Regions from separate parts of the Homo sapiens genome. Here all the other regions are linked to region 2. The links come from fine-mapping of genetic effects on gene expression. A gene starts in region 2. Each other region holds a variant in brackets. All regions are shown on one strand. Distances are from middle to middle.

The links.
Region 1: its variant is fine-mapped to the expression of CKAP2-DT in skeletal muscle (FUSION, PIP 0.95).
Region 3: its variant is fine-mapped to the expression of CKAP2-DT in thyroid (GTEx, PIP 0.92).

What each region holds. Positions count from the first base shown.
Region 1 is chr13:52,732,488-52,739,086 of GRCh38, reverse strand. It overlaps CNMD (chondromodulin), which reads left to right. Exons shown (of 7, transcript NM_007015.3): 2 at 1-56; 3 at 5,728-5,868. Among named protein-coding and RNA genes, the nearest start is that of CNMD, 4.0 kb to the left of the region's middle. RefSeq lists an enhancer at 1,196-1,697. The variant AC/C (reference allele first, on the strand shown) is at 3,717.
Region 2 is chr13:52,451,826-52,458,424 of GRCh38, reverse strand. It overlaps CKAP2-DT (CKAP2 divergent transcript), which reads left to right and starts at 3,079. Exons shown (of 1, transcript NR_185890.1): 1 at 3,079-3,650. It overlaps CKAP2 (cytoskeleton associated protein 2), which reads right to left and starts at 2,947. Exons shown (of 9, transcript NM_018204.5): 1 at 2,799-2,947; 2 at 1,818-1,902. The coding sequence starts at 2,868. RefSeq lists enhancers at 3,247-3,326, 3,617-3,796.
Region 3 is chr13:52,570,462-52,577,060 of GRCh38, reverse strand. All of the region lies in intron 2 of LINC00345 (long intergenic non-protein coding RNA 345), which reads left to right. It also overlaps the pseudogene TPTE2P3. Among named protein-coding and RNA genes, the nearest start is that of LINC00345, 27 kb to the left of the region's middle. The variant C/T (reference allele first, on the strand shown) is at 4,085.

The DNA.
Region 1 (6,599 bases), 280 kb before region 2:
TGCTGCTCTTTGGGGCCATCGGGGCCTTCTACTTCTGGAAGGGGAGCGACAGTCACGTAAGTCCAGAGGGCGGCGCGCGGGGACCCCCGTGTCGCCCATGGTGCCCCTAGGGGGAGCCCGAGCGCGGGCCGGCGAGGGGCGCGCGGCTGCCGGCGGGCCCCTCGGGCCCAGCGTGAGCTCCCCTCTCCCATCCCACTCTGGCACGCGGCTTTCCGCCTTAGGTCAACGTTGTAGAAAAGCAAGTGAAGGTTTCACGGGAGAAGATTGAAGCGTAGAGTAGGGGAGAATGTAGTGGACGGTCCGAGAAAGGCCGTTCTCGGCTCATCTCCCACTAAGCAGTGGCGCGACCGTGGGGAAGGCACGTCACCTTTTGGCCTCAGTGTACTCGTCCTGAAGGGAAAAAATGGAACTGGACGATCTCTAAGGCCTGTCCCTGCTAAGAAAGGCTGTGGGTTTAAAATCCAGGACAAAGATAGTGGAGGAATATTCAGACCCATATTCAGACCCATTGGGAAGGAATTTTTGCCTTTCAGAAGGTTTTTTTGTGACCTAGCCATGAACATTCCCTTCTCTCTCTGGAAAACAAAAACAAAAAACAAACAAACAAACAAAACGTCTAACTTCCTTAAAGGTGGAAAATCTCTTTAACAATTAATTCTGGCCTAGTCATCACATGTGGTTTAATAGTAGGTGTTTTACTAACTGCTGTCCTACTTTCTTTGTATGCAACTATTTATTTTAAAGCTCCACGGCTCTCGAGGAGTATAAAGACTGTTTCTAAGTTGACTGGGCAGAGCTCCAGTGTGTTCTCTAAATACTCTGAAAGTGTTCACCTATGTAAAAGGGGGCATTTTATCTTGATGACCACTGCCAGGTCTGGTATAAGCTTATTTCAACTAATGGAAAAGAATTCCATCTCCAGGGCACACACAAAGGGCTCTTTCATAATCACTATCCTCAGAGGATTGGTGATTGCTGTTTTTTCCTCTCTCCTACCATGAAATGCAAAGCATGAACGAATTCCAGTACTTACAGAAAATGGTGCTGAAAGCAATTCAACCATTTTACACATCACGTCTTCTGCAGTCACTGCATAATTTGTATTTTTAACTCAAATGTCTAATGTAGATAAGCATGCCATTTAGCACCGAGTCTGTTTTAGAGACTATATCAAATTTACAAGCATCGATTTGTAAGATCAGAATTGCACTGTATTTTGTGGGTATTTGAAAAGTGCCTTAATGTATTTGTATTTTAAATATAGAAGCTGGGCCAGATGCTCATGTTTGAAACAGCAAATGTGAATAAGAGAATGATTTCAATATCTACATCTCCATTAATAGCAGGGTTTAGATTGTCATCTCTTTGGGAAATTCTGTGGTTTTAGAATGTAAATGCTATCTTTTAAATAACAAAGCCTCAATGGTATAGGTCAATGGGGGATAACAATAGCTATGCTTTTTTTTGGTAAAGATTCTGGACATGATATATTTTAAAATGAATACCATTTGTCATTTAATTATTCAAGGTAAACATCACTAACTGACAGGCTTCTAAAAAGAGAGATTAAACAATCATACTGAATAAGCACAGCTCCCTTTTTTCATATATTTTACTTTACTGCAAGATGGTTGGTTGTCTGGTTCAGGAGAGCAGTATTAAATGCTAAGAATTCAGAGGAATAGTGAATCACATTTTATTGTCAACAATCAAAATTATTGCTATATCCTATACAGACAGGAGAATGAAGAAAATCATGATAGTTTTTTTCTCCCTGATCCATATGACTTAAGTATGAAAAACAAATCACAAAATACTAAATAGAGTAATTTTTGCACCACCTAGGCATAGCACATGCACAGGTCTGCTTTGCCTGAATACAAATCTAAATAGCTCAGACAAAACGTAATCAAAAAAGGTAAGTCTTTGTCAAACAGAAAGACTTGTCAAACCAAATGGATTATCCACTCTTTGGGGATTATCTGTGCCTCGGCTCCTCTATATTGGTTTATAGAGGAGAACCAGCTGTAATTCACCTCCTATCCTTTTCATGTGGGTAAATCCCCTTAGGACAGGTTTACTGAAATTTAGCTGGAGGACTATGAAGCACTGGAGTAATAATAATCAGGGGACAACTGAACTGGGCTCCAATATTGAGGCCATTTTTCATCCACATTATTGTAAATGGAACAAGGCATTGAAATATGGGAAATTTCCACCAATATGAGATAACTGACAACCCCACCCTGTGAGATGAGGGAAGGAGATCATTGCTTGGGGCCTTTCCTCTCAGACTAATTTTTCTAGACATTTTCCCAAACATTATGTAATTAATCTTATAGAACATAGGCCTTATTAAAAACTCATTAGCAAATATCCTTGGCTGTAAAAGGCACCATATTGAGCAGAATTTTGGCAAATAATAAATTTCATCTTGTTTGGATAAAAATAGCCTTGGGTGTCCACAGCTCCACGGACTTAGAGCAGATAAGGTAATTGCTGCTCCAACAGCCCAGCCTCGTCCCCAGCTCAGAGTCTAGTATGTTAGAAACTGGACTGCCTCCTCCCCCCACATCCTCCCCTAGTAGCTTCAGGAGGGGGACAGCTTCACTGCTGTCCCCATGCAGATGGTGCAGTGCACATAAAAGGTGGGCTGCAGGCCAGGCGTGGTGGCTCACGTCTGTAATCCCAGCACTTTGGGAGGCCAAGGCAGGAGGATCACTTGAGGTCAGGAGTTCAAGACCAGCCTGGCCAGCATGGTGAAATCCCATCTCTACTAAAAATGCAAATAAAGGCCGGGCGCGGTGGCTCACGCCTGTAATCCCAGCACTTCGGGAGGCCGAGGCGGGCGGCTCACGAGGTCAGGAGATGGAGACCATCCTGGCTAACACAGTGAAACCCTGTCTCTACTAAAAATACAAAAAAATTAGCTGGGCCTGGTGGCGGGCACCTGCAGTCCCAGCTACCTGGGAGGCTGAGGCAGGAGAATGGTGTGAACCCAGGAGGCGGAGCTTGCAGTGAGTGGAGATTGTGCCACTGCACTCCAGCCTGGGCGACAGAGCAAGACTCCGTCTCAAAAAAAAAAAAAAATTAGCTGGGCGTGGTGGCGCATGCCTGTAGTCCCAGCTCCCTGGGAGGCTGAGGCAGGAGAATGGCTTGAACCTGGGAGGCGGAGGTTGCAGTGAGTCGAGATTGTGCCACTGCACCCCAGCTTGGGTGACAGAGCAAGACTCCATCTCAAAAAAAAAAAAAAAAAAAAGGTGGGCCGCAGCTGCACAACCAAGATGCCCTACGTCAAGCTTGTCCAATCTGTGGTCCTGCATGCGGCCCAGGGCGGTTTTGAATACAACCCAACACAAATTCGTAAACTTTCTTAAAACATTATGAGATTTTTTTTTTTTTTTAGATTTTTTTTAAAAATTCATCAGCTATCGTTAGTGTTAGTGTATTTTATGTGTGGTCCAAGACAATTCTTCTTCCATTGTGGCCCAGGGAAGCCAAAAGATTGGCTATCCCTGCACCTAGTTAGGGAGGCTTTCTGGGGAGAAGACAGCCAGGGGTAGTGGTGGAGGAATGTGAAATTCAAACCACAGGCCACTCTTCTAGTGTGACAACCTTATCTCCTTAAGAACTGCTAAGAATTTAGAAATGGTTATGTTCTTAAATGTTGCATTGCTTTACTAGTAAAAGCTTATGTGCAATGTTCTTAAAAAAAA[AC/C]ACAGAACCTCTTGTCATATGAGTGGAAGACACTCACATGGGTGTTTCCTGCCAGGCTCCTTCTGACAGTCATCACTGACCCATATGAACACTGGCTGCTCAGAGAGCACCGGACAGAACAGAGCCTTCTTTCCAAACTTCACCTGCAGGAGTCCCGTCTCAGCCAAAGAAAACAGGTTTCCCAAACCTGGCTGATCATAAGGGCCACCTGAGGGGAAAGGGGAAAAGAGACTGGTGGGCTGTGCTCTAGCTCCACTAAATCAGAACCCCCAGGAGTGGTTCTTGTGATCAGGGAAGCCTAGGAGACAGTAAATTGCAGACATCTAAGTTCTTCAGAAAGAGACAGGGAAGGAGGGGCAATGAGGGATGGTTGAGCTGAAAAAGGACACTGGTATTTTCTGTCCTGCTGAATGAATGCTGTTCCTAAAAGGGTGCTGGATAGCAAAGCCATTTCTGTATCTCTGCTGATAATAAAATAGTGCACTGTGGGTCTTGTAATAATGAGTTTTCTTCAAGAAATGGATCCAACAATAACAGATCCTTTTTCCAGTGTTTGTGCATGTAGCAGTCACTCTTCATAATGAGGAAGAAAAATCAGACTTGAATTGGATCTGAGCTATTTGCAGTTTTGACTGGCTGACCTGATATTAAGTAGCAACAGTTTTTCATCAGTTCTCATTCCTCCACTTTAAAGATTTATATATATGTGTATATATAATCTATAATTTATACATGATATGTAATATATCATATGTAAGATATATAGATATACCTATGCATCTAAATCCAAAAAAAAAAGAAACCCACCTCCTAGCTCTGCCACACAGAAAGGTCTACCAGGACAGCAGCACACTGAGCAGGAGCAGCGTCTGAGTTATTTTGAAACCAGTGCAGTAATCAGGTGTCTGAGCCCTTTAGGTCAGCTAATTAGTGGCAAACTTTAAAAAAGAAATGTTTTAAGTATTGAAATTTGTCTTTCTAACAAAATGTTACTCAGAAATGCAACACATAAGACAGAAAAAGCAGAGCCACTCTGGTTAGACTATGGATGGACAGGAGAGAACAGAGTGCCACAGTGCCATCCTCACCTCTAGGCCATGCCCGGGAGATCCCAACAGTTCTAAGGACATAGATGAAAGCCACCTATGAGGTCCAACTTCATTATACACTCGTGGCAACTCACAAGATCCAGAGATGAGTGGTGTGGCCACCTGTTTTCCTGATTACTGGACCGATGCTCTTCTGCAGTGCCAGGTCCCTTCCCCTCTTCCACACTCCCCACACATCTCATAACAAAATGCCCTACAGCACCATGGGCCTGCCCCATAGAATCGTTCAGGGAGTACTACCATTTTGAGCTGAAACAAACATGCACATTGGCCTTCCTCTCCACACATGCTGCTCTATATCAAGCATACCCTGGTCCTGTCTGCAGTCCTTTCCATATACCTAATACCATATACCATATACCTGAGACACTGCATGCCTAATCTTGACCAAAGGATGAAAACAACTTGTGAAACTGAGGTGCCACTGCAGACGTGTTCAGCTGGGAGCCCAATTAACCTTCTGCCTCCTCAATTTCCATTTATCCATCAATAGTGCTCAACCCAGATGCATAATAGAATTGAGCTTTAGAAAAAGAAAGACCTATGCCCAAGCGCCCTTCCCACAGCTTCTGATTTGATTTGTCCAGGGTGAAACCCAGGCATGGTACCCAGAGAGTCTACCCAGATGCTTCTAAAGTACAGCCAGCATTGCAAATTATGGAGCTATTGGAATAGGTGTCAGAGGCAACCAAAGTCTTTACTCTTAAGGTATTTTTAAGGAAATCATTGCATTAACTGATTGTTGTATGAATGAAGTCATCATATATAAATGTATTATTATTAAGGACTATCTCATGTATCTCTGAAACATATGGACACTACCTCATACACTGCCCTTCTAAAGATAAGCCCTGAATTGCTCAAAAAAGAAAGCATCACTAACTCTTATGCTCACTTTCAGATTTACAATGTCCATTACACCATGAGTATCAATGGGAAATTACAAGATGGGTCAATGGAAATAGACGCTGGGAACAACTTGGAGACCTTTAAAATGGGAAGTGGAGCTGAAGAAGCAATTGCAGTTAATGATTTCCAGAATGTAAGTATATTTCATGCATTTAGAGAATTTAACCAGGCAAGCCTGCGGGACTTTTCTAATTCAAGGAGGAGCAGCGTTTCTCACACACATCCAAATGGTAACTGTTCTTTATAGCAGTTGTAGTGCCACTAATCCACTACATGTAGCATATTCTCTCTGAGAAAGGACCAGACTTTGTCCTTCATATTTGCAAAAGAAAAAAACAACACTTCAGTTGTAAAATACCAAAAACAAAAAGAACCACCTTTACTGAATTCATGTACATAAGGATTTAGCTGTTTTGAAAAACATTTTTTACTTCTAGGAAATTAAAGGTATGTCCCTAGAAATCAAAATAAAACTTGATTTTTAAAACTGGAAGAAAAAAACCACAATACCATAGCATTGAAAAGAGCAGGTTCTTCTTGGAATTATATAAAAGTCTTGGCAGAAAGACTTGAAGGAGCTATTTCTTTTCAAGCGGATTTCTGTAACGTGATGAATAAAATGCTCAAAACAATCCAAGAATGTTGCAAGATTTGAAATTTAAATTTCTGAAGAAGAGGGAAATTTTAATGACCTAATAATCTCATCAACAACAGGTGGGATCTATTTGCATACTTTTCTCAATTCCAATTTCCTATTTAATCCAGAAAATGACCATGAGCAAATTCTCCTATTATAGCATATGTTTTCTGACCATAGCATGTTACCATAGCATATTAGAGATAAAACATTCACATCTCCTTTGA
Region 2 (6,599 bases):
TCTCTACTTATTCCCTAGTAATTTCATTCCATCCTAAGGTTTTTAAGTAAATATCATCTGTATACTAATCAATTCCTGAGTTTATGCTTCCAGCCCCAACCCCTCCCCTGAACTTCAGACACACAATTATTTGGCATATCTGCTTGGATGTCTGGTTGGTACCTCAAACATAGTCAAAACAGAACTCCTAATTCCCCAGCTCCTCCTTCAGGCTTCCTATTTCAGTATACGGTTATCACCATTCATTTACTTATTCAAATAAAAAACCTAGGATCACCTTTTTGTCTTAAACAAAGAAATAAAAGATTTATTTGTGAAGGATAAACTGTTTATTCCAAACTAAAGCAACTTATTAATATAAAGTTAGAAATTATTTTTAAAATTTTAGAATGCCAAACTTACACAAAGTTGCAAAAATATAAACAGGTCAAAGAATATCTGTACACTCTTTACCCAGGATCCACCTATTGTTAAAATTTTTATCCCATTTGCGTTATCATTTCCACTCTCTGAATATGTGTGTGGGTGGTATATACAATTTTGTTTACCTGAGACAATTTTTTTTTTTTTTGAGACGGAGTCTCGCTCTGTCACCCAGGCTGGAGTGCAATGGCACGATCTCGGCTCACTGCAACCTCCATCTCCCAGGTTCAAGCGATTCTCCTGCCTCAGCCTCCCCAGTAGCTGGGATTACAAGCACCCACCACCATGCCTGGCTAATTTTTTGTATTTTTAGTAGAGACGGGGTTTCACTGTGTTAGCCAGGCTGGTCTTGATCTCCTGACCTCGTGATCTGCCCACCTCAGCCTCCTAAAGTGCTGGGATTACAGGTGTAAGCCACAGCACCCAGCCTAAGCCTGTAAGGATGTTATTACTGGTTATCCCTAGAGAGTGAGGGGACCTTTTGCCTTTCTGCTTCATCTACTTTCATGGGTTTTTGTTTTTGCTACAGCTATGTACTATCTAAGATATTTTAACAAAATAATAAAGATATTTCTGTGGAGGGTTGAGACTACAACTAGTAATCTCTAAGCATTTGGGAGGGCCACCCAACCCTTCCCTGATGAACTCCCCCATACACTGAGTAAAAAGCTTTGCTAAATAATAGAAAGACTGACCTTTGTGTGGTGTAAACAGTAAGTTGATAATCTAGTCTATGCACATACTTTGCTTTATAATTGTTTTTTTCTCTTAGACTGTGAATTAATTTACGTAGAAAACGATAATCTAGGCCGGGCGCGGTGGCTCATCCTTGTAATCACAGCACTTTCAGAGGCTGAGGTGGGCGGATCTCAAGGTCAGGAGTCCAAGACCAGCCCGGCCAACATAGTGAAACCCGGTCTCTGTTTAAAATACAAAAATTAGCAGGGAATGGTGGCACTTGCCTGTAGTCAGTCCCAGGTATTTGGGAAGCTGAGGCAGGAGATTCACTTGAACCCAGAAGGTGGAGGCTGCAGTGAGCCAAGATCACGCTACTGCACTCCAACCTGGCAACAGAGTGAGACTCTGTCTCAAAAAAAAAAAAATTAATAAAACGATGATCTAATGCTGCACCATCCAATAAAGTAGCCACTAGCCAATGTGGCTACTGAGTGCTTGAAATGTGGATAGACCAAATGGAAATGTCCTGTAACTGTAAAATAGACACCAGATTTTAAAGACGTTGTACCACAAAAAGACGTAAAATAATATGTAAGCAGTTTTTCTAAATGTGGCTACTAGAAAATTTAAAATTACAGATATGGCTTACTTTACATTTTCATTGGACAGATCTGATACAATTTTACAGAAGTGAAAAGAAATAAACTTGACCTTACCTGGATAACATCTCATTTTCCTGCTTGTATGCAAAAAGCGTTTTTCTTCTCAACAGATGTTCCTTGAGTTTTTGTCTTCTTTGCTCTAGATAACAAAGGTAAGAGCTACAAGTCAATATTAGTTAAAACATCGATAACGGCAAATAAATCTTGTTGACTAAATGAAGAGTTTACTTCCAAAGCTGGTTCCACCTGAGGTCACATCTATATAACAGAAAATTCTCCAATTCAATATTGCCTTTGAGAAATCACCTTAGAAGAGACTGTTACCACAACAGGTCCCCAAAACCCCTCTGCATAAGAATCACATTCTCTACTCCCTGTGAAAAATCTGGAGAACATCATTTTCTACATACAGCTCCTGCTAGCCAAGCTTTAAGAAACTAAATGGTAGAAGTGAGGCACTAGACTCGAAAGTTCTAATTTACCAGAACTGGGTTAGATGAGAATTACTTTCTTCTGCTTTCCCGTGTGTAGAATAAGGGAATAACAATATTAGTTTTGAAGACCCAACCAACCCTCGGTTTCCATAAAGTCGAAGGAGAAGCTGTGAAATTGGAAATAACACATGATGCGACCCCAGCCCTGCAGAAATTCGCTAGGGACCTAAGAGGCGGAGGACCCAGCGCAGGCGCAGTCGGTCCCTGAACCTGTGCAGCCCCGCCCCCAAGCGGACCCAGGGTCTCCGACACCGACCCCGGCCTGAGGCCCGCGCGTTTCCCCTCGCCTAACGGATTCCTTCTTAGGAGGGCCCATCCCAGCCAGCAGCGACCGCACAGTAACACCACGCAGCGGTTCCTGTTTTTATGATCCGTTCCACAAGGCCAAGAATGAGGCAGGGCGAGGCCGACGCCGCGTTCAGGGATCTCACAGAGCGGGGGAGAGGTGAAGCGCGCCAGCGCGGCCCCGAGCCCCGACCGCCGGGCCCGCGCCCGCCACCGCCACCGCCACCGCCACCGCCACCGCCACCGCGGCCTTCACCTTTGAATGCGGACTGCGCCCTCTGACTCGGGGGCAGCTGCAGGTCCTGGGGCACGGCCGGTGTGCTCATCGTAGCCTCGGGTCGGGGGATGCGTCTCCGCTTTAGCGCCAAGATAGAACTTCCTCAGACCACCGCCGCCGCAGTCTGCACCGCGGCTAAGCCGTCAGACGGCGCGGCTGCCGTCTCCGCCCATTGGTTCCTGCGTGAATTGAATAAGCCAATGGGCGTAGGGAGGCGGAGCCTGGACTGCAGTTGCCGGGGCCGGTCTGGTGTCTGCCCAGTTCGGTTGGGACTGAGTCTGCAGGTTTCAAACCTAAACAGCGCTCTTCATCCTGGACGTGCGATGGGGGAGGAGTCGGCCTGCTCAGTCCCCACGACATAGCAGGACTAGGTTGACAAACAACCGAGATGGGACACATCTTGAGACCCTCACAGTCCTTGGAGGAAGGCAGACGAGAAAAAGACAAGAAAAGTGTTGATTGGCTGCCCTTCTTATTAAACATCGACGCGTTCACTGACGAGGACGTAAACACCGATCTGGCGTACCACGAGCGTGTGTATTTTCGTTTCACAAATACTGCTTCATTTTGAGCATCAATTCTGAGGTGGGACGTTATCACCACTTTTTCCACTGAGAGGTGACAGGTTCAGAGGTTGTTTGTCCACGTTTGCACAGCGTGTGAAGGGGAACTGAAATTGGGATCTACTTTCCATACCTTTATTCTAAGCAATTATCAAATGCAAAAAAGGGAGGAGAGGAGGAGAAACAGAAAAAAATGAAGATAAACCTCATCCCCTCCTCAAGGTTATATATAATTCTCCTTTGAAGATAAAATAGCATTTGTTACAGACGTTTTGTGTTTGTGTGGTTAAGTGTGCCGCCATAATCTTCGTTTTTCTCATCTAAAAATACCACCTTCATAAAACCCACACAAACACTCAATCCACATGACAGAACGAAACAAGTCAGGGCTAGAAGGTTTTAAGAGTGGCAGTGGGGAAGTGAGGGCGAGTCTGGACTGCACCTGCCTGGTTTCAAGCACTGGGTTTACATTTCTTGCCTGATCACTGCAGTAAGGCTGGACTGGACTCTTTCAGCCAGGTTTTAGGTGCTCCGGGCACACAGACGGGAGGATGTGATTTCCCCGTTTACCCTTCCCAGGTCTGAGGGCCTCCACAGCTGGCCCTCGGCTGTGGTCAGTTTTTCCCACTTCTGCCTGCTTTTTTCTTCAGACATCTTATGGTAGCGTCTTGCTAATGAGGAATTTGGTTTGAGATTTTGTGTAGTTTTTTACTTGATGAAATGTCCCAGTTTTAGTTTAACATTGTCCATCACCATCCTTAAGATATAACTTGCTGTTTAAATACGTCTGTCATTATTGTTGATTATTTACTAAAGTTTCATCAGACAGGTGGGGCAACCAGGGATTTCTATTAAGTGAGAACAAAATACAGCGTTAATAAGTGACTCAAAAACCTCCAAAACATTATGCTAAGTAAAAGAAGTAATATATGAAAAGTTACATATGGTATGATTCCATTTATATGAAAGATCTAAAATAGATACATCCATAGTGAAATAACTCAGAATAGTAGTTGCCAGAGGCTGAGGGTAGGGGGAGAATTGGGAGACAGTTTAATGGACAAGGGTTTCATTACCTTGAAGTAAGTGAAATGTTTTGGAATTAGAGGTAGTGGTTGGGTGACATTGTAAATGTATTAATGCCATTGAGTTGTTCACTTTAAAATGATTAATTTTATGTTATGTGAACCTCAATAATTTTTTATAAGTGGGCATGGTAAAAAAAGAAATTGACTCAAAGGATACCATGGAGATCTCAGTAGGCTGAGATGAATAGGAAAACCTGCCAAACTGCTAGGTTTTTCAAAATGGCAATTCTCCTCTAATCTCCAGACTCACCCACTCCAATGATATGTCTATTTTTGAGACACTTTTTAATATTACTGCTACACAATTATTGCAGAGAAAGCAGACCTTTTTCTAAAAGATCCAAAAAACAAACAAAAAAAACAAAACAAAAAAGATTTCCTTTCAGAACAGTTCTTTGCCAACACAGCTGACCATGAAACTGCAGGCACCTGGAGTACTGATGATTAATTAGTGTTAGTCGTTCCTCCTGTGGTCATGTGAAGAAGGTAAAGTGCCTGTGAGAGAACAGGGAAGGACAATCTGAAAGTTAGGAGGACAATGGGGACACAATGGGGTCACAAAGTCTGGGGAAGAGAGAAGCTGAAGAAAGAGGTAATGGACCACAGTGTTGGGCACTACAGAGGTCCAGTAGGATTGGGACTGAAAGGAACCATCTGATTCAGAAGGTGGGAGGTCCTGGCAAAAACATCCTGGGGATGGCTGGGCGTGGTGGCTCATGCCCGTAATCCCAGCACTTTGGGAGGCCAAGGCGGGTGGATCACCTGAGGTCAGGAGTTCAAGACCAGCTTTGCCAACATGGTGAAACCCTGTCTCTACAAAATATACAAAAGTTAGCCAGGCGTGGTGGCAGGCACCTGTAATCCCAGCTACTCGGGAGGCTGAGGCAGGAGAATCGCTTGAACCCAGGAGTCAGTGGTTGCAGTGAGCCGAGATTGTGCCATTGCACTCCAGCCTGGGCGGCAGAGTGAGACTCTGTCTCAAAAAAAAAAAGCATAGACCTAAATGTAAGAACCAAAACTATGAAGCTTCTAGAAGAAATTATAGGAGAAAATCTTAGTGACTTTGTGTTAGGCAAAGATTTCATAATCAGTATCAATATCTGGTTTGTGGAAAAAAGATTTCTTAAATAGGCAAATTCCATGAACTATGAAAGAAAAAAATACACTGAACTTCATAAAAATTAAAACCTTTTGTCTATTCATTTATTGCCATATATAAGCCACATGACGTTTCTCCTTGCTCCAGCCTGGATACAGGAAACCCTTATACGGTTGTCTATCCCAGCAGCTATCATATGCCAGGCTTCTATTTGTGTCCTACAGACTGTACATCCCTCAAGGGCAGAAAACATACCTTGCAAATGTCCTCACTGCCTAACATGTTGATAATTGCAAAGCCCAGGCATAACTGCACAGTTCCACATCTGATTAGGATGCTTAGGTCACATTACTTTCAATTAAAAAAGACTAAAAAGTTGGTAAACAATCAAATGCTCAAAAATCAGGCAATGATGGTAAATTGTGATATATATTGATAGCATATTACAGCAAATCAAATGTTTTCAAAGAACTTTTGGTTATTGGGTATATGGTCATGATGGAAATTGAAAGATATGAAATACAGAAGACACTGTTTAGAAATAGACCAAAATACACACAGGATTTTGGAACACGGTAAAAGTAGCAATTCATTTCGGGGGAGAGATGGCTTATACTCATTGGAAAGAGCCTTTCCTTTCTTTTAATGCCTAGCCACAGACCACTGACTCCACGACTGGGGGAAATGTGGAGCCCTGGGGGCAGAGAGCAAGCCTGCCCTCTGTCCCTCTGCCCCTGTGCCCCTCTGCCCACGTGGGCACGCAGCCTTAGTTAAGACCCCAATAAGTGGTAGGCTCTCTAAAATGTGTTCACAACCTTTAAAGCAGTCATTCTATTTTAGGAAGACACTGTAAGAAAATAATCCTAAAGAGAAAAATATGTATCAATTGTAGAAGGACATCTATAAGCTGCTCCATTTATTTATTTATTTATTATTTATTATTATTATTTTTGAAGCAGAGTCTCGTTCTGTCGCTCAGACTGGAGTGCAATGGTGCGATCTCGGCTCACTGCAACCTCTACCTCCAGGG
Region 3 (6,599 bases), 120 kb before region 2:
ACAGAAGCCTTACTTTAAGTGGAGATGAAAAGCCTGAAGTCAGCATTCCTATTTTCAGTTTTCCCTTTTTTTTTTTTTTTTTTTTGCATAAAGGTTAAGGGCAGTAAATAATTAAGGAAACATTTACTGGATGCCATTATGTTACTAGATATTTTGAGGGATGCTGCCTCACAACTATCTACCTTGGGGAAAAAATACTGAATTAAGTGCTATGGGGAAGTGACAAGGATGGAGCCAGGTCTTGTTGACAGGCTGCTTATGGTTGAGAGGGCAACTAATCAGAACCAACAACAAAACAGTTACAGCATTAGCAGTGTGCAGATAGAAGCTTAGTTGTGACTGAGTTAGAGGAAGGTGTGTGGTTTAGTGAAGAGCAGGTTCCTGGGCATGAGAGAATGCCATATGTGAAAACTCAAGAGGAATACCTCCATATCTCAGTAGCAGGTTTCCTGTCATTCTTCTCTTGTTCCTGACAGCTAGGATTTCTTCACTTTCCATTTCCCCAATTCTGTTTTCACAAGGAAGCCCCGGAATTCCCTTAGCCTTGTCCTTTTCCTAGGGCAAGCTGTTCACAGTGGCTCTCCTTGAATCTATCTTCAAGGAGTTGAAGAGCTCTGGTACTGAATCAACTGGTTCAGAACTCAAAAGTTGGCTGCGCTGGTGGCTCACACCTGTAATCTCAGCACTTTGGGAGGCCGAGGTGGGCAGATCACTTGAGGTCAGGGGTTCGAGACCAGCCTGGCCAACAGGGTGAAACCCCGTCTCTACTAAAGCTACAAAAATTAGCCATGCGTGGTGGTGGGCACCTGTAATCCCAGCTACTTGGGAGTCTGAGGCAGGAGAATTGCTTGAACCCAGGAGGTCGAGGTTGCAGTGAGCTGAGACTGCACCACTGCACTCCAGTCTGGGTGACAGACAGATTCTGTCTCCAAAAAAAAAAAAAAGAAGAAGTACTCATAAGTTCATGGACTCTATCTTACCCATTGAGAAATGTTCATAGAAGTAACAAACTGCCATACTTTCCTTTAGAAAGGGCCAGTCATGAGGAAGGCTCATGAAAGTTCTTAACTTAGGAGTAGATGTAGTCAGTAGAATGGCCCACAATGCAGGATCAGAATGTGATGGTATCCGAGAATCACCACCAGACACAGAGGGCACTCTGTCCTGAGGTCTTGCCAACACATCTCTCAAATGTGCAGCTGAGACCCTGTGTTGCCTTCTCAGTCAATCAGAAGAGATTCAGTTGCAGCCTTTGGTGTGCTAGTTCTGGACTAAAGTTCGGGAAACTATGCATGACTACAGAAGAGATGGGGATGGGGAGACGTGTGGGGTGAGTTGCTGAAGGAGCTCTATCTAACATCTCCTTGGCTCCTGCCACCAGATTCTCCACCTTCCCCTAAAGGCTGTAACCTGCCAGGGCCCTCAAGCTGCTTTTGCTCCCATGCTTCTTTCTACTACAACTTAAAACAACATGGACTGGTAGTAGAAATTCATACAACCAACCCATAGGAGGTACTCACTACAAACAAAGAAGATATTATGAGGAAAGGGTGGAAAGATGGGTAAGCCATGGGCCTTGCCTTTAAAGGGGAAACAGAAGTCACCACTTCAAATAGCTAGAGAACAATGCAAAGTGATATCATCCCTAAGAGAAACACAAAGGGCTTTAGGAACTGAAAAAGCAAGAGACTACTTCAGGCTGGGAAGGGAAAGGGACTCTAGGAAAAGGGGCATGAGAAATGGCACGAGGGAATCAAGTGTCCATGGGCTGGGAAACAGCACACAGTCTAAATGTGTTAGAGTGTGGGATGTGTGCATGCACATAGTGGAAGAAAAGGTTGGAAAAGTCAAACTGTGGATCTTGAGTGCCAGGTTGAAACATTTAGTTTATTGCTACTGGCAGTGGGGACATACTCTGGATTTTGAGCATGGAAATGGCATGAGTAGGGCTGCACTTCAGTAAATCCACACATTCCTTTTCGCTTAGGGTCTATGACTGTTCTTTGTCTGGTTTTGTTTTTGGCTTGGGTGTGGGAGAAAAGTATCAGTGGATAAGGCTGAGTTCTTTTGCCCAAACTAAACGGGGACAGTAGTTAGTGTTCTTATAACAGGGCCAAGAGTACTTATTCAGTTCCCACCACCTAAAGAAAAACTCATTTACAGCCACATCCAAATCTATTTGAGAATTCCCAACCCACTCTCACTTCGGTTTGAGGGGCAATATAGAAAAGGCAATATAAATGAGAAGCTGTGCACAGCATGGGCTTCAGAGTCTGACATCTAGATTTCAGTCCTTGGTTCAAAAGTTAATTTCTCTGAACCTCAATTTTCTAATTTATAAGATGAGAATCATAGTAGTGCCTACTCATAGAGTTACTGAGAATATTAAATGAGATAGTGAATGTAAAACTCTTAGAATGGTTCAGCAAAGTCTAGAATGTTGTAAATGCTATACGATAAACATTCTGGTTTCTGCAGTAAACAAATTACAAGCAATAAAAAATGGCAAGAAATCTATGAACTAAAAGAGACTTAGGAGACATAGCGACCAAATGAAATGTGTGGATGTTGTTTGAATTCTGACTGAAACAAACTAAATTTTCAAAGATTTTAAGACAATTTTGGAAACAAACATGGACTAGAAATTTGATATTAAGGATTTTTAAGGTGTAATATTTCAGATATGATAAAAGTTATTAAGGGTTTTTTGTTGTTGTTTTAAGAGTACTTAGATGTCATACTAAAATACTTGTGGGATAAAATGATCTGATGACTGAAATTTCCTTCCAAATAATCCAGGTTTGGGGAAAGCAAGAGTGGAGAGTGGGGTTGGGGGTGTGAGTGGAGTGGGAAAAGTATGGATGAAACGTGGCCAGTTGCAGGCTGAAATGATTGTTGCAGCGAAGTGATGACTACATGGAGATATATTGTATGATTCTCTGGACTTTTGTATATGATTAAAGTTTTCCATAACGAAATTATTTTTAAAAGAAAAAACAGAGTAACAGCATATGTTTCATATAGGTGTTATGGGTTTTCAATGAGATATGTAAAAGTGCAGTACTGTCTGGTATATAAAAGGGTTTTTGAAAAGTTTATTTCCCCTTTTCTTTCTCTTTTAAAATACACCTCCCCCACCACACACACACACACACACACACACACACACACACACACACACACGGGAGTCACCCAAAAACAGTCTTTGTGATGTTCTGCAAGGGTTGAATTGCCCTAATAAGGATCTGTGAAAGACTTAGATCTTTTTTACATTGAAATCAAAGGCTGGTGATTTTAGATAAACTTCAGGGTCCTGGAGCCTTAGGTATTGGACTTTCCTGCTTTGGGAAAATAATCAACTCCTGAGCTCCGTAAACAATAACCAGTATAGAATAGAAAGCAGGATGCTCTGAGGAGAAGCCAGACCCCCCAACGTGTGGGTGGCACCTGAAGCATGACCCTTAGCATCAGGGAGGGACCAAGGCCTGTCGCAGGGTGCCCTAATGCTGCTGACTGATCACCAAAGGAGAAGAGTCTAAAATGAAACCAAATAACAGATGGCAATCTTAACCCACTCCCCTACAAAAGCTCCCTTTCTTAAAACGAAAACTTACCTGAGAAGGAGTTTCTACTCCCTGATATTTAGTGCCATTGGTTTTATCTGTTCGCCGTTCTCCAAAATAGTACAATCTTTCCTACAAAAAAGGAACCATGGTTCATCTGCACTCTTTCCTTTTCTATATTAGGTACCTTAGTCTTTCTAAAACCACCTTCTTTCCTAAAGTCAGTGATTTTTTTTTTTTTTATGGAGTCTCGCTCTGTCACGCACACTGGAGTGCAGTGGCAGAATCTCACCTCACTGCAACCTCTGCCTCGCGAGTTCAAGCGATTATCTTGCCTCAGCATCCTGAGTAGCTGAGACTACAGGCGTGTACCACCACACCTGGCTAATTTTTTGTATTTTTAGTAGAGATGGGGGCTTTGCCATGTTGGCCAGGCTGGTCTCGAACTCCTGACTCAAGAGATCCGCCTGCCTTAGCCTCCCAAAGTGCTGAGATTACAAGCATGAGCCACCGCGCCTAGC[C/T]GCAGTGGTCTTTTGGCAAAGGCTACCCAAATTACCAAAATTAACAAAGTCACATCAAAGACTTCTCTCATTCAAGGTTTCGTAAAGACATAAAAGTTTAGAGCTGGAAAGACCTTAGAAATCATCTGGTCCAACCCTTCTTTCCATCTTACAAATGAGAAGACTGAGACCAAAAGAAAACTACACAATCTGCCATGGAGATGCTGCAGCCAGTTAGAAGCAGCACAGGCCTGAAATACAAGTCTCTGGTTTTCAGTCTAGGGCTCTGTATCAGTGGCTTTCAAACTTTTCATTTTTTAAGTTGCAATCCACATTAATAAACCTCGGAGAAGTACACACACACACACACCAATACTTAAACCTTTTCAGATTTTCTATTCTGCTCTATTCCATTTTATTTAGTTTTAGCTTTAGTTTTTTTTTGTTTTTTTTTTTTGAGACGGAGTTTCACTCTTACTGCCCAGGCTGGAGTGCTATGGCCCGGTCTCAGCTCACCACAACCTCCACCTCCTGGGTTCAAGCGATTCTTCTGCCTCAGCCTCTCAAGTAGCTGGGATTACAGGCATGCACCACAATGCCCAGCTAATTTTGTATTTTTAGTAGAGACAGGGTTTCTCCATGTTGGTCAGGCTGGTCTCAAACTCCTGACCTCAGGTGATCCATCCGCCTCAGCCTCCTGAAGTGCTGGGATTACAGGCATCAGCCACCGCACCTGGCCGATTCCATTTTATTTTTAAGAGATGTTAGTCACAACCCAGTAACTTTATTTTACAACTCACTGATACATCATGATCCATAGCTTGAAAAACACCATCCTAGAACATCCATTTTCAAAATCTGTGTGTCTCAAATTAGAAAAACCAAAGGTGGTGGAATTAGAGTGCTGGGCATTGTGCAGAACCACCACTTCTTCCCTAGACTGTAGGCCAAACAACTCAAGCGGAGCTGCTGGAAATGGTAGCATCTCAGCAAGAAAATGGCAAAGAAAAATGACTGAGAACACTGCTGTAGGTGGAAACATCCCACCTTGTCTTATCAGAAATTTCTAGAGGCCACAGACTCCACATGTGTTGACTAAGCAGAGGTATTTACATGCAGGAGAGGCTTTGAGTTGTGAAATGTTGCCTTTTATCTACCTAAGAGGTGTGAGGATGGCCAAGGCCCTTTGGAGAATTTATCTAATTAAGCTTGATACTATTCTCATGAGGAAGGAAGAACAGCAGGGCCAGGTGAGGTGAGGGAACCATTGCGATTACTGAATGTTTTTTGTATCTGTGTAACATGGCTTTACTCCCCTCACCTTAATCCTGCCCCATCAGGTCTTGTCATTATTTAAAATGTTAATATTGTATACCTCATGGTTTTTTTGCATTAATTTTTATTTTTTAAATATTGCATGAAAAATCATTTATTTTAATTATTGCAATTTTTAGCATTCTCTTAAATTCTGCGCCTCATTGACCTCACTCTAGTCCTGGCCCAAAGAGATTCTTAAGCCAGCTACTAACCAGTGCATGTTAAACAAGGAAGTATCAAAAACAGACTTTTTAACAACCGCTTCTCCAATTACAATTTCACTAAGCACCATGACTAAAATAATCATCTTAACATCCTACCAGTGATGTTTCAGAACTAGCAAACTCAGTCATCCTAAGACAAAGTTTGTAGTAACATCTTTCATACCTCTGCAGTTAAAAATATTTCACTGGCAATCAGGCAGGCACAAACCATAGTTCCGGTTCTTCCTAGAAAAGAAAAGAAAAATTAGTTCAAGGAACATGCTTGGTATAAAAATACACTCAGAAATATTCCAGGAGTTCATTTTAAGTTGATTTTCTTTCTTTTTTTTTGGGACAGTCTCGCTGTGTCACCCAGGCTGCAGTGCACTGGCACGATCTCAGCTCACTGCAACCTCTGCCCCACAGGTGGAAAATAAATTACATTTACGGTAAAAATATTTCTCAACTACCTCTCCACGAAAGAACAAGATGAGGTTTTTACTAAATCTATTCGAAAGCAATAATTCATGTCTTATATAAATTCCTTTGGGTAACAGTAAGAAAGAAAAATTCCCAACTCATTTAGTAACACTAAAATAGCTGGTTCCAAAACTGCATAAATACAGTAGACGATTACTTTATACCAGTCTGACATATAAATGTAGATATAAAAATATATATATTTTTTCAAAGTGAATTCAGCAGTGTAGAAATACCACGTATCAATACCAAGTGCCATTTCTCTTAAGAATGCAAGGATTTTTTTCCAAGACGGCAGATTACAGGCTTTTAGCATGCCTCAGCCATTTGGAAATAGCAAGATAGTACATAAAGATCAACTCTGTGAACTTTAATTCAAGAAAGAAAACGACAACTCCCTGGAATTATGAAGGACACCCCAGATCCTTGGGAGGACAACGCAGGCAAACAGCTCTTGTGACAACATTCGACTGATAAAAGCGAGTGAAGCCTCAGTATGTGAGAGAGGCAGACAGCATCCCTCTGTCTTACCTTTC